Regions from separate parts of the Homo sapiens genome. Here all the other regions are linked to region 3. The links come from fine-mapping of genetic effects on gene expression. A gene starts in region 3. Each other region holds a variant in brackets. All regions are shown on one strand. Distances are between the middles of the regions.

Region 1 (7,932 bases), 43 kb before region 3:
AGAAAGAAAGAAAGAAGAAAGAAAGAAAAGGAGGGAAAGAAAATAAGATCTGGTGGGGCACAGTGGCTCACGCCTGTAATCTCAGCACTTTGGGAGGTTGACATGGCAAGAAAGCTAGACCTTGCCTGTAAAAAAGAAAGAAAGAGAGAGAGAGAGAGAAAGAAGAAAGAAAGAAAGAAAGAAAAAGGAAAGAAAGAAAGAATATGCAACATTGTTAGTTGAGAATATTTTAGAACTTTTAATCTATATCAGTTCTCATCCTTGGCTTGACTGATTATATCATCTTGGTGTCTTTAAAAAATTTATTTATTTATTTATTTATCTTTCCTTGAATATATCAGTGGAATTTGTTGGCGTCTTTTGTTTCTTTGCCCTTCATGTTTCTTGTCATTTGGTAGTAGACCTAAAAATTTGATTAGATTTAGGGTCCATTTTTGGGCAAAAATATTTCATAGGTGGTGTGTACTTCCTACCTTATTCCATTAAGAGGTGCCTGGCTGCCTTGCTTTTAGTGATGTTCGATAAATCAGTAGTTCAGTTATAAAGTTCCCCATCAACCTTCACCTCATAATTGTAATCACAATGGATGATAGTTGCCTTGTCTCAATGTTTCATTAGGAGGTGTGAATAGTGACTTTCTAATTCTACCATTTTGTTGCATTTATGACCCTTACGAATGATTTGGGTACCCTCGAATAGACAGAAGAATAAATGCTTGATTTTTTTCCTTTATATATCAATTCTCAAAATAAACATTTGTTTTCTTAAGTGATCCAAAGATGAATGATTAGTGATTTTTTTTAGTATCATTATGAACTCATGGATTTGTATATATTTGTTTTAATTCATTACAGTCATTACTCCTCTACAAGACCAGTGCTGTAATCCGTGAGCTATAGGGCCTTGGGTTGTTTTTGTTTTTGTTTTTGTTTTCACATCACCTCAGCAGTATTTAATAGCTACCTTGCTTTCAGGCATAACAAAATGCCACAGGCCCACCTTGTGTAATTCCTGCCCTAGTTCTGAAATCAATCATTTCCTAAAGCCTCACTGGTTCCTTTTAGTGGGAAATGGCATTTAAACTACAAATTTGGACATCCAGGTGCTCACAGCCATTAGACTGTCATTCTTCTTGGCCTTTCAGTGGACACAACTGGGATATATATATGTATATGTGTGTGTATATATATGTATGTATATGTGTATATATACATATATAAATTCATACCAACATTGCCAATTCTAATTTCAGATTACAGATTTGTTTACTCAAATATGTGACTCAATCAGATTACAGAATTTATAGCTAACTTAATTGATTTGATACTAGTATCTCTTTTATCTTTCATTGAAAATCTGGGTTTCTAATAATATTGTTACTTGTTATCTTATATACATATATAAGTTATACAAAATACATGTAATAACACCTAAACAGGCCAGGCGCGGTGGGTCGAGCACTTTGGGAGGCCGAGGCAGGTGGATCACCTGAGGTAAGGAGTTCGAGACCAGCCTGGCCAACGTGGTGAAACCCCGTCTCTACTAAAAATACAAAATTAGCTGGGCAAGGTGGCACATGCCTGTAATCCCAGCTACTTGGGAGGCTGAGGCAGGAGAATCACTTGAGCCCAGGAGGCAGAGGTCGCACTGAGCCGAGATCGCACCACTGCACTCCAGCTTGGGCGAAAGAGGGAGACTCTGTCTCAAAAAACAAATAAACAAACCCAAAAGAAACACACCTAAACAATATTAATATTACCAACAGTATACCATTATTAAATGCAGTTGATTTTTTTCTGATTTTAGGCTTTGTCACACTAAGGATATAGAGTCAAATTAATGAGTTTTACAGTTAATTTGTGTGGTTATGCCAGTGACTCAATGTACTCTTTATTTCTTTTCTTTTAGGAAATGCTTTGTTATTTTCTTTTAAAAAAATAGTTATGTAGGCTCTTGAGCTGCTTGCTTTGGCCCACTCTTGCCCTGAGGAGTATACTTTCATTTTCAATACGTCTCTGCTTTTGTTGCTTCAAAAAAAAATAAAAATTATGTGGCCGGGTGCGGTGGCTCATGCCTGTAATCCCAGCAATTTGGGAGGCCGAGGCAGGTGGATCACGTGAGGTCATGAGCTGCAGACCAGCCTGGCCAACATGGTAAAACCCCATCTCTACCAAAAATACAAAAATCAGGCGTGTGTGGTGGCAGGCGCCTGTAATCCCAGCTACTTGGGAGGCTAAGGCAGGAGAATCACTTGAACCCGGGGTGGCAGAGGCTGCAGTGAGCCGAGATCGCACAACTGCACTCCAGCCTGGACTGGAGTGAGGCTCTATCTCAACAACAACAAAAAAATTTACATGAATCCAAAGTTGAAGCTATTAAACACAGTGTATACAGAGAAATCTAGCTTCCATTCCTATTTCCTTCACCCCGTTCTTTTCTTACCTATAACCATTTTTCTTAGTTTATAATTTACACTCTATTGCATCTTTAACATGTAAGCAAATGCACACATCATTATTTCTATTTTCCCATCTTTCTTACAAGAAAGGCAGCATTTCAACACGTGTGAAAAGGGGGAAAAATAAAAATAAAGGCAACATACACATGGTCTCTGTCCTGCTTTTTTCACTTAACAATACATCCTAGATTTCCAAGGCAGTCCACAGAGATGGTTCTCTTTCCTCTGTGCAGCGGCATAAAACTGCATTGTGTGGATATACATAGTTTATTCAGCCAGTCCTCTGTGGATGGATGTGTGGGTTCAACAAACATTTATTGCATGACCAAATTGTGCCAGGCACTGGGAATAAAGACGTGGTCTCTGGCTTCAGGAAACTCAGAAGTGCAGATGGGGAGATCTCCACAATACAAGTGCTTTCCTTATAAGAAGTAATAGCTTGGGTCCACTTAGCACAAGGGGCACATGGAACAGGGAAGAGACGCTTGCACACAGGAGGGACACAATAACTGTCTATTTATTGGCATCTTGCTTCCACTTGGGCCTGCAAACAGGAGAGTCCCCTCGGGAGGAGATGGTTACCAGTGGTTGAAATTGCTTAAAAAATCATGAGTGCCACCAATTGGTCAGAGAAGGGAAAGCTGAATGAAAGAGGCCGAGAGGGAGGGTCCTAACCACAAAATTACCCTGGAAAGAGGAAATGTAACAACACAGGAGCTGTGGTTTAACATGAGCCAACACCTATGTAGAACTTTCTGCTGACCAGATATTGTTCTAAGCAGTTTACATATAATTCCTTTCTCACAACACTCCTAAGTGGTACGAATTATTACTACCTGCATTTTTCCGATAAAGAAATTAAGGTGGCTGGGCGAGGTGGCTCACGCCTGTAATCACAGCACTTTGGGAAGCCAAGGCAGGTGGATAACTTGAGGTCAAGATTTAGAGACCAGCCTGGCCAACATGGTGAAACTCCGTGTCTGGTAAAAATACAAAATTAGCTGGGCGTGGTGGGTGCCTGTAATCCCAGTTACTCGAGAGGCTGAGGCATGAGAATCGCTTGAACCTGGGAGGCAGAGGTTGCTATAAGCCAAGATCACACCACTGCACTCCAGCCTGGGCGACAGGGAGACAAGAAAGAAAAGAAAGAAGGAAGAAGGAAGAAGGAAGAAGGAAGGAAGGAAGGAAGGAAGGAAGGAAGGAAGGAAGGAAGGAAGGAAGGAAGGAAGGAAAAATAAAAGAAAAAGAAAAAAAAAATTAAGGCACCAGCGAGGTGGGTGGTTCACACCTGTAATCTAAGCGCTTTAGGAGGCCAAGGAGGGAGGATCGCGAGGCCAGGAGCTCGAGATTAGCCTGGGTAATACAGCGAGACCCCATTTCTACAAAAAAATTAGAAAATATTAGTAGGGTGTGGTAGGGCGCGCCTGTGGTCCCAGTTACTGGGAGACTGAGGCGGGAGGATCGCTTGAACCCAGGAGTTTGAAGCTGCAGTGAGATACGATGACGCCACTGCACTCCTGCCTGGGCCACGGAGCAAGACCCTGTCTCTAAAAAAATATTTTTTAATTAAATAAAAAATAAAAAGAAATGAAGGCACAGAGAGGCTACCGAACTTTTGCCCAAGGTCAGACAGCAAAATGGAAAGAAGGGCAGGCGAGTAGGCAGCAAGACACCGCAGATGGGACAGTTGCAAGTAGTGCACCAAGAAGCTGGTGCGCTCCCCAAGGTGGGACGAAAATACTGTATGTCCCTCTACCCCATAACCACCTCCTCGCGAGGACAAAGGACACCTGACACGTCACCCCTCCCTCGCCCCTGCGCGCACACACGCCCCTCACCCTACCCCAGGTCAGAAGACCCCGAAGGGCTTTCTCTGGACTCCTGGAACCCTGGAGGCGCAATTGACGCCTTAGAGGCTGAATAAGAGTCCCTCTCCGAGCAGCTGGCGACACGTCTCTCTCGCGCCACCCCTCCCAGGGTCCGAAGCTCCCGCCTGTGCAGTGGCACAAATGAAGTTTGCCTCCTCGGGCTCCTGCGAAACCGTGGAAGCTATGAGAGTCACAAGGTCCTAAATGGAAGCAGCTCCTCGGGAACTGAAGGCCAATCGGACGCAATTCTACCCTCCAGGAAAGCGCAGGAAGAGGGAACAAGCAATGCCGACGCGGCGTGGGGGACCCAACACAGGGCGGTCGCACAGGCGCGACCCTTCTCGCGCCTTCTCAAAACCCAAGCAAACACCACTGGTTCCTACACCCGCCGAGCCCGAGTCTGCAGCCTCCAGCTCCCCTGGCCCGTTCCGGGCGCCGCCTGCGACCCATGCCCAAGACAGCGCTCTGCTGTCCCTGCGCACCCGGCGCCGACACTGGCGGGGCGGGCCCAAGCCGGATCCGCCAACCCGACGACCCACCTCCCTCAGGGCTGCCCCAGACGCCAGCTGGGGGCTTCTACCTTGACGCTAGAATTTGAATTTTCAAACGCTTGTGGCTACAGGCTTTAAAACGCTAGCTCCAGAAACCAGCTAAAGTATTGCATTGAACAGAAAACCAAATACCGCATGCTCTCATTCATAAGTGGGAGCTAAACATTAGGAACACGTGGACATAAAAGTGGCAACAACAGACACTGTGGTCTACTAGAGGGGGCAATGAAAACGGGCTAAGCTGCACTCCAAATCCCAGCATCCCACAACATATCCAGGTAACAAACCTGCGCAGGTATCTCCCAAACCTAAAAAATTAAAGCCATTAAAAAGCTCTGCATTGGCCAGGCGCGGTGGCTCACGCCTGTAATCCCAGCCCTTTGGGAGGCCGAGGCGGGCGCATCACGAGGTCAAGAGATCGAGACCATCCTTGCCAATATTTATACAAAAATTAGCTGGGCGTGGTGGCGCGCGCCTATAGTCCCAGCTACTCGGGAGGCTGAGGTAGGACAATCTCTCGAAAACCGGAGGTGGGGGTTGCAGTGAGCCGAGATCGCAACACTGCAACTCCAGCCTGGCGACAACGCGAGACTCCGACTCACAAAAGAACAAACACAAAAACACATTACACAGTTGGACAACGGAAAAGCACCCGTGCGTGTAGCATACAGCCAGAAAAA[A/G]GGGCACCCGAAAACGGTAAACACAAAGCCATGAAACTAGGCCACCTGTTATCATAAGTAACAAGCCCACAAATACAAGTGTTAAATCGATCCTTGAAGTTCAGGTCAGACGGGTAATGTGCCCACGTCGTAACAAGGTTCAAGGGTGGCACATCTCACACAAGCGTATGAACACCCAATCATCACGCTCATGAACTACAAAAGGATCATCTTATAGTTGACATTAAGGAGTGCCAAGTATGTGCCACTAATTTACACATAGGGTGACTACCGTAATGCGATACATCCATTCTTCACGTATAAAATCCTGGATATTTTCAAAGTCCCACTGAGATTCTGTGATTATTCTTTTGTTTCTACCTTAGCAAAGGAAAACAGAAACACAATTAGCGAGCGGATTATTATATATGCAAATTTATTCTCTATAGTTCCACCTCTCCGTCATTTTCCCGAGCCTGGATCTTTATTGCTTTACGACCATACGTCGTGAAATAAGAAGGTGTTGCGGCAGTACTGGCGGAAGCTAGCCTTGCGTTTTGCGGCAGCAATATGAGCTAGGTCCGGATCCTGTTAGACACCGGCGGGCGCGAGCCGTTGCAGGTACCTGGGGGTGGTTAAGTTGGTGACATGGCTCAGAAGTTTATTTCTTTAAATTTTTAAGTTTTTTTTCTTTTTAGTCTTCAGAAAGGCAACAGTAGTCTTTTAACGTCACTGTTAAAAGTGTAAGACTCTTTTACTCCCTGAGAGTCCCCTTTCCCTTTCTTGCGTCCTTTCCTCTTTATTCTTTTTTTTTTTTTTTTTTTTACTGAGACGGAGTCTCACTCTGTCGCCCAGGCTGGAGTGCAGTGGCGCGATCTCGGCTCACTGCAAACTCCGCCTCCCGGGTTCACCCTTTCTCTTTATTCTTATCCCGGTCAGACTCGCCCCCTCCTCCAAGACATCTCTCTGTTTTATTTTATTTGATTTTAGTTCTCTTTGGGTGATCGCTCCTTCCCTCTTCAACGGATCCCTCCCCGCCTCCATCCTCGTTCTGTGGGAGAGACCAGCCTTCTGGTGCTGCAGTCAGGAATGGAGCTTGACAGCGCTCTGGAAGCCCCATCGCAGGAAGACTCTAATTTGTCCGAGGAGTTGTCTCACTCCGCCTTTGGACAGGCCTTCTCCAAGATTTTACACTGTCTTGCCCGCCCGGAGGCACGACGAGGCAATGTAAAAGATGCAGTTCTTAAAGACCTCGGTGATCTAATAGAAGCCACAGAATTTGATAGGTTATTTGAGGGGACTGGTGCACGGCTCCGCGGAATGCCGGAGACACTGGGGCAGGTAGCAAAAGCCCTGGAGAAGTATGCAGCCCCCTCCAAGGAGGAGGAAGGTGGAGGTGATGGGCACTCCGAAGCGGCCGAGAAAGCAGCCCAAGTTGGGTTACTGTTTCTTAAACTGTTAGGGAAAGTTGAGACTGCTAAGAATTCCCTGGTCGGCCCTGCATGGCAGACGGGCCTGCATCACTTGGCAGGACCCGTTTATATTTTTGCCATCACACACAGCTTGGAGCAACCATGGACCACTCCGAGATCTCGGGAAGTTGCTAGGGAGGTGCTCACCTCACTGCTTCAAGTTACTGAATGCGGTTCTGTGGCAGGATTCCTACATGGAGAAAATGAAGATGAGAAAGGGAGACTTTCGGTGATACTAGGGCTTCTCAAACCCGACTTGTATAAGTGAGTACTCCTGCCCTTTGCCACCGACTTGAGCCTCACAGTTTTTTATTTTTATTTTTTATTATTTATTTATTTTCGAGACAGAGTTTCACTCTTGTTGCCCAGGGTGGAGTGCAATGTTGCGATCTCAGCTCACTGCAACCTCCGCCTCCTGGGTTCAAGCGATTCTCCTGTGTCAGCCTTCGGAGTAGCTGGGATTACAGTTGCCCGTCACCACGCCTGGCTGATTTTTTGTATTTTTAGTAGAGACGGGGTTTCACCATGTTGGCCAGGCTGGTCTTGAACTCTTGACCTCAAGTGATCCACCCGCCTCGGGCTCCCAAAATGCTGGGATTACAGGCGTGAGCCACTGCGCCTGCCCTAGCTTAATTTTTTATAGCGTTATACCTCAAAGGAAGCTCAATTTCTTCAGCAGTAAAATAAGGGTGCTGTAACCACGGATCTCTTAAGGCCCAGAAACGTTGTGATTTGCTATAAATGACATAACTGGATAGTGGCAAATTGGAGGTCATAACTGAGATGTTCGGGCTCAGTTGTCCAATGCTCTTTCCAGCCCTTAGGACGACTGCCTAGGAAAATTGGAAATTCTGTCCCACTTACTTGGAGTTAATAATTACAAAATGTGGCCGGGCGAGGTGGCTCACTCCTGTAGTCCCAGCA
Region 2 (8,005 bases), 61 kb before region 3:
CAGCTGATTTTTGTATTTTTAGTAGAGACAGGGTTTCATCATGTTGGCCAGGCTGGTCTCGAACTCCTGACTTCAGGTGATCCACCCATCTTGGCCTCCCAAAGTGCTGGGATTATAGCCATGAGCCACCGCACACAGCCTATTTCATATTTAAAATGTGGTGGCAGTGACAAAGAGTTGACTGCCTCACTTAGCTTTTCTTTCTTTCTTTTTTTTTTTTCGTTGAGACATGATCTGATATGGTTTGGCTGCTCCCCCACCTAAAATCTCATCTTAAATTGTAACCCCTATAATCCCCATAATCCCCGTGTGTCAAGGGCAGGACCAAGTGGAGGTAATTGGATCATGGGGGTGGTTCCCCCATGCTGTTCTCATGATAGTGAGTCTCACGAGATCTGATGGTTGTTTAAGCGTCTGGCATTTCCCGTGCTTGCACTCACTCTGTCCGTCCTGCTGTCCTGTGAAGAAGGTGCCTGCTTTTCCTTTGCCTCCTGCCATGATTGTAAGTTTCCTGAGGCCTCCCCAGCAATGCAGAACTGTGAGTCAATTAAACCTCTTTCCTTTATAAATAACCCAGTCTCGGGTTATTCTTCATAGCAGCATGAGAACAGAGTAACATAGGGTCTCACTCTGTCACCGAGGCTCTGGAGTGCAGTGGCACAGTCATGGCTCACTGCAGCCTCGACCTTCTGGGCTCAGGTGATCCTCGCACCTCAGCCTCCCAAGTAGCTGGGACTACAGGTTTGTACCACCACAGCCAGCTAATTTTTTTATATTTTTTATCGAGACAGGGTCTTGCCATGTTGCCCAGGCTGGGCTCAAGCAGTTCACCTGCCTCGGCCTCCCAAAGTGCTGGGATTACCAGGATGAGTCACCACGCCTGGCCCTCATTTAACTTTTAACCTTGATAAATTGTATGTTGTATGTCAAGGCAAAACGGAAGTGGGGGGGAGGGTGCAGAGGCAAGCATCAGGTGGGTAGAATACCCTCCCTTTATCACACATATTAACATTCCTTGCACAATTACCCAGTGAATATTCTCATTTTGGACTTTTTCCACACCCTAAATTTAGTAAGCTAGAATTATCTTTATTTATTTCTCTCTTTTTTTTTTTCCTAAGTCACTGTGTTTTAGGATAGAATTATCTTTTAAGCACCACTTTAAGCAACCTTTTTGGAAGGAAGAATGCTGACAAGGAGGAGATCTGTGTTTCCTTGTGGTTAGAATGCAATATCCTTAACTTAATCATTCTGCCAAGAAGCTGAGTCTCTTTATATGCTGACAATAGAGCAAAGACAGTAATCCAACACATTCATTACAGGTTTGTAAGATTAAAAATTTATACATTCAGATTGGAAAACATGAGAAACAGACTTGCTGCCAGACCATTAATTCTGGGCATCTCTGCATTCTGTGTTCTGGAAGCTGTGCACATTGAATTGAATAATTGCCTGAAACATGCCAGGGGTTTTCATTATCTAAAGAAGTCTATGTCGAGCCTTTTTACAACTAAAACCTCTCTAAAATGAGACTTAAGGAGTTTTTTACTTAATTTATAGACTTTAAAACACTAAGATCTGCATGTAAATAAGTTTAAGTGAGATGTGCCTATAGAATAAAACAATTAGAAGTAATTTCTTTGGTTTTCTTCTTATTATTATTTTTTAGTAGAGATGGGGGTCTCGATTTTTTGCCCAGGCTGGTGTCAAACTCCTGGCCTCAAGTGATGCTCCTGCCTTGGACTCCCAGATTGCTGGGATTACAGGCATAAGCCCTTGCTCCTGGCCTAGAAGTAATTTATTTAAAGTCTTGTTTACAAAGAGAAATGCACGAAGCACGTACAGAGGAAGAAAGAACAGTTCCAAATGAATGATTTTTGTTCCTAGTATTTGAGGAACAAAAGGTTCACTGACAAGAGTCAGTGATGAAATGTGGCTGTGTTTGGGAAAACATGGGATCTTTCCCTTCTACGCCTCATTATGAGATTAATTTGTAGTGTGGAATAAACAAAGCTAGCCCTGGAATTCAAAGAATGGGTTTTAAACCCAGCTCTGCCTCTAATTAGCCAGGAGACCTCAGCCTAGTTCCTTAATCTCTCTAAGCCTCCTTTTTCTCCTCTGTAAAATGGAGATATAGTAACTGCCTCAGAGTGTGATTAAGAAGAGTACATAAAAAAGTGTATATGAAAGACTTGAAGTCATGCTATTTTTGTTTCTAAAGTCACAGGGGGCAGGGCGCAGTTGTTCACACCTGTAATCTCAGCACCTTGGGAGGCTGAGGCGGGTGGATCACGAGGTCAGGAGATCGAGACCATCCTGGCCAACATGGTGAAACCCCGTCTCTACTGAAAATACAAAAACTAGCCGGGCATGGTGGCATGCGCCTGTAGTCCCAGCTACTCAGGAGGCTGAGGCAGGAGAATCACCTGAATTTGGGAGGCAGAGGTTGCAGTGAGCCGAGATTGCACCAGTGCACTCCAGCCTGGGTGACAAAGCGAGACTCTGTCTCAAAAAAAAATGAATCAATAAAATAAAATAAAAATAAATAAAATAAGGTCATAGGAAGCCATGCAACTAAACAAGGGGACTAAGTGAAAAGTCTGTAAGAAATAAGGAAGTTTGTGTATATCCCTCCCCTGCCATTATCCCAATTAATACAGCTGTCCCTTACTGAGCCTGTACTAAGTCACAAGCACTGCATTCCGGGTTTGCTTTCTTTCACTGGGCAGAGCTGATGCCCACTGAATATACAATTTGTAGAGAAGTCTGATGTGGATGATTGTACTTAGAATCAAACTTCTCAAACTTATTAAACAGCCAACACATATTGAGTGCCTACTACATGCCAGGCATTGTGCCAATGAGCAAGACCAAAATGGCTCCTACTCCCAAGATGTTTACAGTCTAATGGGGGAGATGAAGCCTAAACAAGCATACTCATATATTTAATACATGGACCAACCATCGTAAGGTATCCAGTGACTACCTTCGTAAAACCAGAGGAGAGGGATGGACAAGGAAGGTCTTTTCTGAGCAAGAGACATTTAAGCTCAGAGCACAAGAATGACAAGAGGTAGGGAAAGGCCAGACAGAAGAGTGTATGTAAGAAATTGAGGAAAAAAAAAAAAGAAAGAAATTGAGGGCCGGGGGTGGTGGCTCACGCCTGTAATCCCAGCACTTTGGGAGGCCAGG[C/T]GGGCGGATCACCTGAGGTCAGGCGTTCAAGACCAGCCTGGCCAACATGGCAAAACCCCATCTCTATTAAAAATACAAAAAAATTAGCCAGGCGTGGTGGCAGGCGCCTGTAGTCCCAGCTACTCGGGAGGCTGAGGCAGAAGAATCGCTTGAACCTGGGAGGCGGAGGTTGCAGTGAGCCGAGATCACACCATTGCACTCCATTCTGGGCAACAAGAGCAAAACTTCATCTCACAAAAAAGAAAAGAAAAGAAAAGAAAAGAAAAGAAATTGAGAGAGAATAGAGCTTGGGCTGTTGGTGAACACATCCCATGTAATTAAGCTTAGTGAGAGATGGGGAAGGGAGGTACAAATGAGGTCAAAGAGACACAGCAGCAGATCAGGGAGGGCCTAGTAGCCATGTTAGGGAATTCTAACTTTTGATAATAGGACTGTAGCAGAAAAGTGACATTATCTGGGTTAAGTTTTTATTGGAAATGGAATTGTGTACCAGAATGGAAAATAGGCCGGGCACAGTGGCTCATGGAAAATAGGCCGGGCACAGTGGCTCATGCCTGTGATCCCAGCACTTTGGAAGGCTGAGGCAGAAGGATCGCTTGAGGCCAGAAGTTCAAGACCAGCCTGGGCAACATGGTGAAACCCCCATCTCTACAAAATATACATATACATATATATATATATATATATATATATATGTGTGTATATATATATATATATATATATATATATATATATATATATATAAAATAATACAAAAAATTAGCCAGGCATTGGGCCATGTGCCTATAGTCCTAGCTGCCCAGGAGGCTAAGGTAGGAGGATCGCTCCCTTGAACCTGGGAGGTCAAGGCTGCAGTGAGCCATGGTTGCGCCACTGCACCCTAGTTTGGACAACAGAGTTGTTACTGGTGGAAGGTATCCGAGTCACATGGCACCAAAATATGTTAGACAAGGCCAATTTGTAGGGGTCTGCAGCAACCTCAAATCTTGCTTCCTCAGAAGAAAGAATTCAACCGAGGGACCTAAGGCAAAAGGAGAAACCAAGGCAAGTTTTAGAGCAGGAGTGAAAGTTTATTGAAAAGCTTTAGAGCAGGAATAAAAGGAGGGAAAGAACCTACACTTGGACGAGGACCAAGTGTGTGACTTGAAAGACAAGTGTGCGGTTTGACCTTTTGACTTGGGGTTTTATACGCTGGCATGCTTCTGCGGTCTTGTTACTTCTCCCCTGATTCATCCCTTGGGGTGGGCTGTCTGCAGGCACATTCCTGAGCCCACTTGCCCAACCCCTGAGGTCTTCTCAAGAAGCCACTGATCACATTTCATGTGTTTTCCATGTATTAGGACACTGCCTTTCCCTGGCACTGGCTGTGACCAATTACTATTTTAGAAAGACAGTTAACAACTGCCTGATCATCACCTGATGGTTGCCTGATATTCCTGATATTTGTGTGTGTTGGGCGGAGCCCTCTCCTGCCCTGCTCATGCCTGACCAGCTACCTACTGTAACAAAGTAAGACTTTGTTTCAAAAAAAAAAAAAAAAAAAAAAAAAAGAATGAGCCGGGCAGGGCGGGCGCATTATCTCATGCTTGTAATCCCAGCCCTTTGGAAGGCCCCGGTAGGCCAATCACCTCAGGTCAGGAGTTCAAAACCAGCCTGGCCAACACGGTGAAACCCCATGTCTACTAAAAATACAAAAATTAGCCAGGTGTGTGGTGCACACCTGTAATCCCAGCTACTTGGGAGGCTGAGGCACGAGAAGTGCTTGAACCCAGGAGGCGGAGGTTGCAGTGAGTCGAGGGCATACCACTTCACTCCATTGAATTTGGCAATGAGGAGGCTACTGGGGGCCTGAGCAAAAGCAGTTTTGCTGGATTCATGGGGTGAAGGAAAAATTGAGTGTGTTGAACAGTGAATGAGCAGGATACACTGGCTCATGCCTGTAATCCCAGCACTTTAGGAGGCTGAGGCAGGAGGATCACTTGAGACCAGGAATTCAAGATCAGCCTGGGCAACACAGCAAGACCCTATCTCTACAAAGAAAAATAATAATATATGAGAAGAGACAAGCCATTCCTAGAAAATTGAAAAGAAACAAAAATGCATATAAACGTATATCAAGGTCCTCACATAGCCATTGTATAAGTCAGAATTTTCCAGATAGGTAGATAAGAGGGGATGTATTAGGGGAACTGGTTCACATGACTATGGAGGCTGAGAAGCCCCATGATATACCATCTGCAAGCTGGAGAACCAGGGAAGCCAGTGGCATAATTCAGTCTGAGTCCGAAGGCCTGAGAACCTGTGGGCTCCTGGTGTAAGTCCCAGAGTCTGAAGGCCTGAGAAGCTAGAGTTCATATGTCCAAAGGCAGGAGAAAATGGGTGTCCCAGCTCCAGAAGACAGAGTGAATTAGACTTTCCTCTGACTTGTTATTCTATCCAGGCCCTCAACAAATTAGATGATGCCTGCCCACATCAGGTAGCTCTTCCTTACTCAATCACTGATTCAAATGCCAATCTCTTCCGGAAACACCCTCACAGACATAACCAGAAATAATGCTTTCTGGGTATTCCTTGACCAGCTATCTGGGTATTCCTTGACCCAGTTGAGTCGACATCTAAAATGAATATCACAGCTATATAGAAAAGAAGCCTATTTCAAGTAACTTGAAACATAACATTTGATTGAAATTATTATTATTTGAGACAGGGCCTCGCTCTGTCACTCAGGCTGGAATGCAGTGGCCCAATCATGGCTCAAGCAGCCTCAACCTCCTGGGCTCAAGTGATCCTCCTGCCTCAACCTCCCAGGTAGCTGGGACTATAGACATGTGCCATCTCACCTGGCTAATTTTACTTTTTGTAGAGATGGTGGGGGTGGTCTAGCTATGTTGCTCAGGCCGGTCTCAAACACCTGGCCTCAAGCAATCTTCCTGCCTTGACCTTCCAAAGTGCTGGGATTACAGGAGCGAGCCACCATGCCCAGCTGATTGCAATTATTTACTCAGTGTACCCTAAAGACAAAAACAAATAGCAAAGAAGTCTTAAATTATATTCAATAATCTCATGTTTTTTTCTTTCTTTCTTTTTCTTTGAGTCGGAGTCTCTTTCTGTCACCCAGGCTGGAGTGCAGTGGTGCGATCTTGGCTCACTGCAACCTCTGCCTCCTGGGTTCAACTGATTCTCCTGCCTCAGCCTACAAAGTAGCTGGGACTACAGGCACATGCCATCACACCTGGCTAATTTTTGTATTTTTAGTACAGGTGGGGTTCCACCAGTGTTTGCCAGACTGGTCTCTAACTCCTGACCTCAGGTAATCTGCCCACCTCAGCCTCCCAAAATACTGGGATCACAGACATGAGCCACCACGCCCAGGTAATCTTATGTTTAGTAATAACAATATTGCTATTTTAATACCTTTATGTGTATATTTTAGAATAAAGCAAATAAGTAATTACATTAATGTTATTATGAATCAAGATTTTTGGCCGGGCGCGGTGGCTCACATCTGTAATCCCAGCACTTTGGGAGGCCAAGATGGGCGGATCACAAGGTCAAGAGATGGAGACCATCCTGGCCAACATAGTGAAACCCCGTCTCTACTAAAAATACAGAAAAAAATTAGCTGGGCGTGGTGGCACGCTCCTGTAATCCCAGCTACTTGGGAGGCTGAGGCAAGAGAATAGCTTGAACCTGGGAGGCAGAGGTTTCAGTGAGCCGAGATTGTGCCATTGCCCTCCAACCTGGGCAGTAAAAGAGAGGAGAGATACAAGTCTCATTTTAAAGAAGTATAAGCCTGAAATCTTAAATCTGAATTGGAAATATTAATACAAATTTATGATTTTTTTCTGCTTTTAAAGAGCATATATTTCCTAGATGTGTCATCCACCGAGACCTAGAAAACTAAAATCAATACGAATTCAAGAGCAATGGCATCTCACTCTTCAAATTGTAGCCCTTAAATAGCCTTTCCCCTTACAAGGAATTAGGGATTCTTGGAGACATGGTTGCTTCAACCTTGCCATTCTAGAAAGGAAAGAAGCAATCCATGACTACTGAGTCATGTTAATAGGACACAGAAGCCAAAATGAAAAGACCCCCATTGGCAAAAGATGGGACGATTTGAGTATAACAAGAATAATTACAATGGAATAAAACTCATTAAATGTATAAAATTCCTTAAGATCATATAAAACTAGTAAGAACGGGCTGGGTGTCAATGGCTCATGCCTCCCAAATCCCAGCACTTTGGGAGACTGAAGTGGGAGGATTGCTTGAGCCCAGGAGTTAGTAGACCAGTCTGGGCAACATAGTGAGACCCTGTCTCCACAAAATAAAAATAAATAAAATAAAATAAAAACTAACAAGAACAACCACCAAATATCAGGTATTCATTGAAGGTCACTAAGGCACTAAATTCATTATTCTAAAAACTGGCTAATGAAAGGAAAAAATCAAGCATTTATCCTGCTTTTCCTGTGCAAATTGTATTCAGGGTGATCAGATAACTGGTTGCTGGGGGAAAGTTCTATTTAAAGCAGAGTTCCAGGTAAAGATGCAAAAGGAAATAACAGAATTAGGAAATTGCCATTTTGTAACTCTAATGAAGTAACAAAATTAAGCAGTGATTATTCATGGCTCCTGTAGACACCAGGGGAAAGATTGATGGAGACTTTTGTAACAGATCAATCTGTCTTATCATTAGTAAAAGTGGGACAATCAGACATCACATGCCTCCTGTGATACAGTAAGAAGTATACAGCCCCACCCCCAAGGCTGATCCTAAATTTCATTTTATCTCTAGATCCAACCACCC
Region 3 (8,005 bases):
CATGATCTCAGCTCATTGCAATCTCCGCCTCCTGGGTTCAAGTGATTCTCTTGCCTCAGCCTCCCGAGTAGCTGGGATTACAGGCGCGCGCCACCACACCCAGCTAATTTTTGTATTTTCAGTAGAGATGGGGTTTCACCATGTTGGCCAGGATGGTCTCCATCTCCTTACCTCGTGATCCTCTCACCTCAGCCTCCCAAAGTGCTGGGATTACAGGCATGAGCCACCGCATCCGGCCATAGATGCCAATTTCTGTATCAGTTAGCTATTGCTGTATAACACACGCCTCTGAAACTCAGTGGCTTAAACAGTAAGCATTTATTCATGTTTGTGTTTCTATGAGTCGGTGGGTAGTCTGCTGACCTGGGGTTGCTCACATATCTGTGGTCATCTGGTGGACTGACTCGAGGCTAATTAGTCTAGGATGGCCTCACTCACATATCTTAGAGTTGGGTAGCAATTGACTGGGGCAACAGGGGTGACTGAGCCATTATCCCTCATAGCCCAGAAGGCTATTCTGCAGTTGGTTTCATGGCAGTTGCATAGAGTGGCAAGAAAATAAGTGGAAGTATGCTAGGCCACTTAAGGCCTGGACCCGGAAATGGCATCCTGTCACTTCTGCTACATTCTGTGGCCAACACAAGTTGCAGAGCCAACCTTGAATTTGAATTTTCTTTCTTTCTTTTTTTTTTGAGATGGAGTCTCACTCTGTCACCCAGACTGGAGTGCAGCGGCAGTGATCTCTGCTCACTGCAGCCTCCGCATCCCGGGATCAAGTGATTCTCTTGCCTCAGCCTCCTGAGTAGCTGGGATTGTGGGCGCCTGCCATCACACCTGGCTAATTTTTGTATTTTTAGTAGAGTCAGGGTTTCGCCATGTTGACCAGGCTGGTCTCAAACTCCTGACTTCAGGTGATCCACCCACATTGGCCTCTCAAAGTGCTGGAATTACAGGCGTGAGCCACCACACCCGCCCGAGTTTTCTTCTTTGATCTATGTGCTATATAGAAGTGTGTTGTTTTTATCTCCATGTATCTGGAGATTTTCTAATTATCATTCAGTTACTGGTTTCTGGTTTAATTCCTTTGTGGTCTGATAGCATGCTTTGTATGATGTCCATTCTTTGAAATTTGTTGAGGTGTGTGTGTTTTTTTAAATTTTTTTTATTTTTTATTTTTTATTTTAAATCGAGTTTCGCTCTTGTTGCCCAGGCTGGAGTGCAATGGCGCTATCTTGGCTCACTGCAACCTCCACCTCCCAGGTTCAAGCGATTCTCCTGCCTCAGCCTCCTGAGTAGCTGGGATTGTAGGCACCTGACAGCACGCCTGGCTAACTTTTTTGTATTTTTAGTAGAGACGGGGTTTCTCCATGTTGGTCAGGCTGGTCTCGCTCTCCCAACCTCAGGTGATCCGCCCTCCTTGGCCTCCCAAAGTGCTGAGATTATAGGCGTAAGCGACCGTGCCCTGCCGAGGTGTGTTTTATGGCCCAGTATACATGCCTTTTGATGTTTATATATAGGTATGTGTATTAGGCCTATACCTAGGAATTTCTGGGTCACAACGTGTATATTCAGCTCTAGTAAATATGAACAGATGATTTTCCAAAGTGGCTGTCACAACTGCACCCCCAACAATAGTGCATAACAGTTCTATGTGCTTCACGGCTTTGTCCTTGTGTTGTCTTGTCAGTTTTAAAATCTGTAGCCATTTTAGTGGATGTGTAGTATATATCATCATCGTGTTCATTTGCATTTCTTTAATGACTAAAAACATTAAGCATCTTTTTCACATACTGCCTGGCTATTTGGATTCGTCTTCGGTGAAGTGCTGTACTTATTGATTGCTTTTCTTTCTTATTGCTTTTAGGAGTTCTTGTTATATTCTAAATTCATTGTTAGATACAATATATCAAAAATACCTTCTCTCATTCCGTAGATCAGTTTTCATTCTTTTTCTTTCTTGAGACAGGATCTAATCCTGTTGCCCAGGCTGGAGTGCAGTGACACAATCCTGACTCACTGCAGCCTTGACCTCCCAGGGTCAAGCAATCCTCCCACCTCAGCCTCCTGAGTGGCGGAAACCATAGGCGTGCACCACCACACCTGGCTAATTTTTAAAAATTTTTCGTAGAGACGGGGTCTCCCTATGTTGTCCAGGCTGGTCTCCAACTCCTGGGCTCAAGTGATCCTCTCGTCTCAGCCTACCAAAGTGCTGAGATTACAGGTGTGAGCCACTGCACCCATTTCTTATTTTCTTAATGGTGTCTTTTGATGAATAGAGTTTCTTACTTTTAATCATATCTAATTTATCAATCTTTTCTGTGTGTTTGATGTTTTTTAGATGTGGACACCATTATTATCAACCTGTTTTCATAGAAAAGTTGAGTTTCTTGGCACCAGAGCTCCGCAGGGTCGGGACCAGAGGGAGGCAGGCCCGAAACAGCAAATCGCTCTCAGGCTTCTGCAGTGCACCCAGCACTGCAGGACACCCAGGGTCAGCACCTCCTCAGATTTTGAGCCCTAAGTACCTCATTTGCCTTGCCCTAGACCCACCCCTCCCAAAATGCTGAATTACCTCCTTAGGTTTATTACCTCCTAGACTAGGGCACAATAATTTTATTTGAGTTTTTGGATTTGGAACTCAGTAGCTTGAAGTCAATTAGCTTTCCTTTACCAGTGTCTAGTCCGTTTGGGCTACTATCACAACACACCTTAGTTTGGGTAATGCATGAACAACGGAACTCCACTGCTCCCAGTCTGGATGATGGGAAGTCCAAGATCAACAAACACGCTGGCAGATTCCTCATCTGTTAGCGTCTGTGCCTCATACAAGAGACCCTCTATGTGTCCTCACATGGCAGAAGCTTGCTCTGGTCTCTTTCATAAAGACACAGTACATTTGTAAATTTATATAGACTATAAAGGCACGAAATTCACATATGAATTTGGGGCAGGGTACAAACATTCACACCATAGCAACCAGTACAATCTTTTCTTGAATAAATGACTTTGACCTTTTTTTTTAAATTTATTTTATTTATTTTTGTAGACAGTCTTGCTCTGTTGCCCAGGCTGGAGTGCAGTGGCTTGATCTCGGTTAACTGCAGCCTTTACCTCCTGGACTCAAGAGATCCTCCCACCTCAGCCTCCCAGTAGGTGGGACTACAGGCATGGGCCACCACACTCTGCTAATTTTTGCATTTTTTGTAGAGACAGGGTCCCGCTATGTTGCTCAGGCTGGTATCGAACTCCTGGGCTCAAGCGATCTGCCCGCCTTGGCCTCCCAAAGTGCTGGGATTACAGGTGTGAGCCGCTGCCACGCCTGGCCTGAATAGGTGACTGCATGCGCTCCAGTCCTAGTCCAGTTGGAGAAGCGGAGAGTTTCCCCTGTCTTAAAGAAGAGGGCCCCCGCAGCCTTCCCGAGAACTTTCCATAGGGCCGTGGCCTCAGGCGGACTGCGAACCAAGATCATCAGCAGGGGGCGGCCCGGTGTTCTTAGAACCCGGGTCCCAAGAGCTTGTGAACAGGGCACGAGTGAAAACCCGGATCCAGGCTGGCTCCGCCGGAACGCGCCCCGAGCTCGCCCGCGCGGCCGCCTCTTCCGCTCCTGATCGGCTCTTCGGGTCTTCCCGGCGCCCAGGCTTGGGCTCATAGGGAGAAAGGAAGCTGCGCTGCATTCTGCGGGACGAACCCTGCTCCGCGCGAGGTGAGTGCGAGCGCCGCATCACATCTGGCCTCTGTGGTCTCTTGGTGGGGGTAGGGGCTTGATGCTGAGACACGGAAAGACGCTTTTCTGGTCCCACGGAAGCTGGGACACTACCTCCGGGAGTCACAGCCTAAGGAAACTCCCTCTCTGTACCGAGCAGGGGGTGCGTGTAAGAGACGGAATGGTGTGTGCAAAATAATCCAAGTCTGTTTTGGAGACTTAGTGGCGCAAAGGCAGAGCCACTGCCTGAGATTGAAGCCTGATCCACCAGGCGGGAGGCGGGTGCCGGGCCGGAGCCTCTGCTGGAGCCCGGAGAAGGAGCGCGGGGTCCCGGCGCCTCCCCGCCTGCCCCGATCGGCCTCCTCCCCAGGTCCGCGGCCGTCCATTCCAGAACCTAATCTGCCTTTGCGGGGCGCGAATTGCCTTGTTCTCCCCCAGGTCTTCCCAGAGAATCACTTGTTGCAGGAATGTTGTGTTGAAGTCGTAGCAACTGTGACTTTCTAGTTGCAGAGAATACGGCGTATTTAATGGAGAAAATGCCCCAGGAAAGCACCGGCAACCGCAGGCCTGGGTTATCCCATTTGCAAGCCATGTGTTAGGTATTTTGCACCCGATTAGTACCCTCAGAACAGAGCTCATTTTTTGTAAACTATAGAAGTAATTTTTCTGTGATTTTATGACATTTTCTGGGAATCTTTTAATGATTCTTTAAAATAAAGCAAATGTCACACAGAATGACTTTTTCTAACACCACGGCCCCAACAGCCTGCCCCCTGCTCCCTGCTGCAGCTCCCTGCAATAATAGTTGGTTAGAGTGTTTTGTGCATGAAATGACTTGGATTGTTAATTTAGTTTGTGGAATGCATCCAGCTCTGGCTGGCCACAGTTTTGAATAAGGCAAGTTGGCTTTCAGGACTTTATTCCCTTCGTACACCTTTCTTTCCAATGAGACACCCAGGAAACTCACGACCAATCTTGGGCTTGTTAGTAACGTCACACTACAACTAGGGCAGGGTTTCTCCCTGGTCTACCGTAGTCTCAAATGGAGGCCTTTCTCGCATTGAATAAGCAGCTCAGCTCTTTGAACGCTGAAGTTTCACTGCCTCCAATCTAGCAGCACCGTAGTCTCCGTTTTAAAACTTTCTTCTGAGTAAGGAGAAGCCAGAGGCGATTGGGTAGCCTCAGGTGATCATTCAGGTCTTCCAATTTCGAAATTGCTGTAATAACTCTTGCTCGCTTCCTGCTAGATGGCAGTGTGTAACAGTGAATTAAAAACACGATCTCAACTTTTACTGTGTTGTTATTGCTTGTCTTCTACAATAAGAAAAAAAAGTAAGTTTTCAAGTTTTATCTTACAAACAATATTTTTGAAAAATTTCAAACTATGGTTAAATTCAGGAAGTAAAAAGAATATAGTTTGGAAAAACAATGTTATTTATATATGTACAAATGTTGTTCAGTAGGCAGATATTTCCAACCCATATTTAAATGCTTTAAACTTTGGAATGTAGGCCGGCCGGGCGCGGTGGCTCATGCCTGTAATCCCAGAACTTTGAGAGACCGAGGCGGGCGGATCACGAGATCAGGAGTTCTAGACCAGCCTGGCCAATATGGTGAAACCCCGTCTCTACTAAAAATACAAAAATTAGCTGGGCTCATGTGGTGGCGTGTGCGTGTAGTTCCAGCTACTCGGGAGGCTGAGACAGAACAATCACTTGAACCTGGAAGGAGGAAGTTGCGGTGAGCCAAGACTGCGCCACTGCACTCCAGCCTGGGCAACAGAGCGAGACTGTCTCAAAACAAAACAACAACAACAACAACAACAAAAAACAAAAACAAAAAAACCAACCTCGGAATGTAAAGAGTTGATTTCGGGTAGATATTCAATATCTAATTCAATTACCAGCATTCTACAGTGAACATTTGTTACAATGTTTCTGAACATGGGTTTTTGAACATTTTTAGAAGTTAAGTTTATCTTAAAATGTCTTTCAGATTTTTTTCTTTGATAATGAAATTGGAGTTTTCAAAAGATTATACAGAATTACCAACAAGGAAAATGAAGATAAAGTAATCCTAAACCTGTTATATACAATTAAAAAAAAAATTTCCGGAAATCTTACTTTGTGATGACTCAAGTTGTCTGGATTACTGTCTCTTGATTAATCTTTTATGGAGAGTTTTTACTCCTGGATATAATTTATGGGATGAGAGAGCTTAGTTTTGGGATGGAACCTCAGAAGATCCTCAGGGATTTGTCTTTAGTCATGTGAAATATTAGCTACATTTTGTCAGTGTTACTGAACCAGCTCCTCATTCATGAATATATAAATGATAAAAGCAGATCAGGGATTTTATTTGTTTTTTCTAGTCTGCAGTTATTCAATATTTATTAATTTATATTTTTTCTAGAGATGAGGGATTTTAATTCGAGTATCTTGTAGGGTGGGAAATTGCCACAAAGTAACCTATAAGCCCTACTTGGAGGAAGAATAGTTACTAATACTTATTAGTATAAGACCTCATAGGAAAAACAAAGATGAAAAAGAATCCCTGCTCTTGAAGAATTGCCTTAGTTCTTACTGTGACACATAAACTTCATAGTCTTGTGCTGTCACCCCACTTTTAATTTTTATTTATTTTTGAGACAGGGTCTAGCTCTGCCACCCAGGCTGGAGTGCAGTGGCACGATCACAGCTCACTGCAGCCTTGACCTCCAGGGCTCAAGGGATCCTCCTGCTCAGCCTCCTGGTAGCTGGGACTATGACTACAGGTGCACACCAGCATGCCCAGCTAACTTTTTTTTTTTTTTTTTTTTTTTTTTTTTGTAGAGATGGGTTCTTGCTGTGTTGCCTAGGCTGGTCTTGAACTCCTGGGCTTAAGTGATCCACCCACCTCGGCGTCTCAAAGTGCTGAGATTGCAGGCATGAGCCACGACACCAAGCTTTCCATTTTAAAAATCTGTGCTTCTTGCCGGGCGCCATGGCTCACACCTGTAATCCTAGCACTTTGGGAGGCCGAGGCAGGTGGATCACGAGGTCAGGAGGTTAAGACCATTCTGACCAACATCGTGAAACCCTGTCTCTACTAAAAATACAAAATTAGCTGGGTGTGGTGGTGCACACCTGTAATCCCAGCTACTCGGGAGGCTGAGGCAGGAGAATCGCCTGAACTCGGGAGGCAGAGATTGTGGTGAGTGCCACTACACTCCAGCCTGGTGACAGAGTGAGACTCCATCTCAAAAAAAAAAAAAAAAAAAAGAAAAAGTAAAAAATCTGTGTTTCTAATTGAGGCATTGTATCAGTCTGTCTGTTTATCTGGCTCTCTGTCTTTTGGATTTGTTTTTAGTTTCTACATCAAGTAGATCCACTGAATACTCTTTCTTGTGAGGTTGTATTATTAACACTGCATAATTTAAGTACTTTAGTATGTGTCTGGAATTTAAGGATTGAGGAATGACATTGCCTTCATTTCTGCAATAGAAGTGCAGAGGTGTTCTGGCTACACCTCTTTCCCCATTAATCACCAGTCTTGATTCACATGACTGCCAGTGTGCCTTTCTCCCTTACTGTCCTCTACTGGTCTCTCCTGAAATTTGCACTAGTATGAAGAGGATGACTTTCCCACATAGAAATCTACAATCCAAAGCATGCTTTATATAAAAATAAATGCTCAGCAAAATATGAAGTTCACTGAAAATGAGCGAGGTACACATTAACACAGATTTTTGTTTTTGTTTTTGTTTTTGCTTTTTTTTCGAGACAGAGTCTTGCTCTGTAGCCCAGGCTGGAGTGCAGTGGCGCGATCTCGGCTCATTGCAAACTCCGCCTCCCGGGTTCATGCCATTCTCCTGCCTCAGCCTCCCCAGTAGCTGGGGCTATAGGCACGCACCACCACACCCAGCTAATTTTTGTATTTTTAGTAGAGACGGGGTTTTGTCATGTTGGCCAGGCTTGTCTCCAACTCCTGGCCTCAAGAAATCCACCCTCCTTGGCCTCCCAAAGTGCTGGCATTACAGGCATGCACCACTGCATCCGGCCTCACATTGATAAATGGCACTTTACTGTGAATACTTTAAATTTGATAATTAGATACATTTCTTCTAAAAACTTTCCGTGGTATTACCTCTAGCTTATTAACCCAGTTGACTCCCAATTACCAGAACAGAAATGGGCAAAGGAGTCTTCCCAGAGCTCCCTGTTTTCTAAGCTAACAGTTTTATTTTTATCTTGAGGTCTTTGGGCAGCCATTGAAGGATTTTAATCAGGAGAGATATCCAATCAACACTCTAGGGACATCTCT

Evidence for each region.
Region 1: its variant is fine-mapped to the expression of POFUT3 in whole blood (INTERVAL, PIP 0.96).
Region 2: its variant is fine-mapped to the expression of POFUT3 in whole blood (TOPMed, PIP 0.99).

Annotation. Positions count from the first base shown.
Region 1 is chr8:33,511,307-33,519,238 of GRCh38, reverse strand. It overlaps TTI2 (TELO2 interacting protein 2), which reads left to right and starts at 6,104. Exons shown (of 8, transcript NM_001102401.4): 1 at 6,104-6,157; 2 at 6,527-7,272. The coding sequence starts at 6,626. SNORD13 (small nucleolar RNA, C/D box 13) reads right to left here and starts at 5,764; the gene lies at 5,661-5,764. RefSeq lists enhancers at 4,123-4,412, 5,933-6,072 and a silencer at 5,453-5,502. The variant A/G (reference allele first, on the strand shown) is at 5,558.
Region 2 is chr8:33,530,153-33,538,157 of GRCh38, reverse strand. No RefSeq gene overlaps it. Among named protein-coding and RNA genes, the nearest start is that of SNORD13, 21 kb to the right of the region's middle. RefSeq lists a silencer at 310-510. The variant C/T (reference allele first, on the strand shown) is at 3,193.
Region 3 is chr8:33,468,762-33,476,766 of GRCh38, reverse strand. POFUT3 (protein O-fucosyltransferase 3) reads left to right here and starts at 3,621. Exons shown (of 5, transcript NM_032664.3): 1 at 3,621-3,703. RefSeq lists silencers at 3,512-3,591, 3,882-4,121, 5,352-5,401 and an enhancer at 4,442-4,651.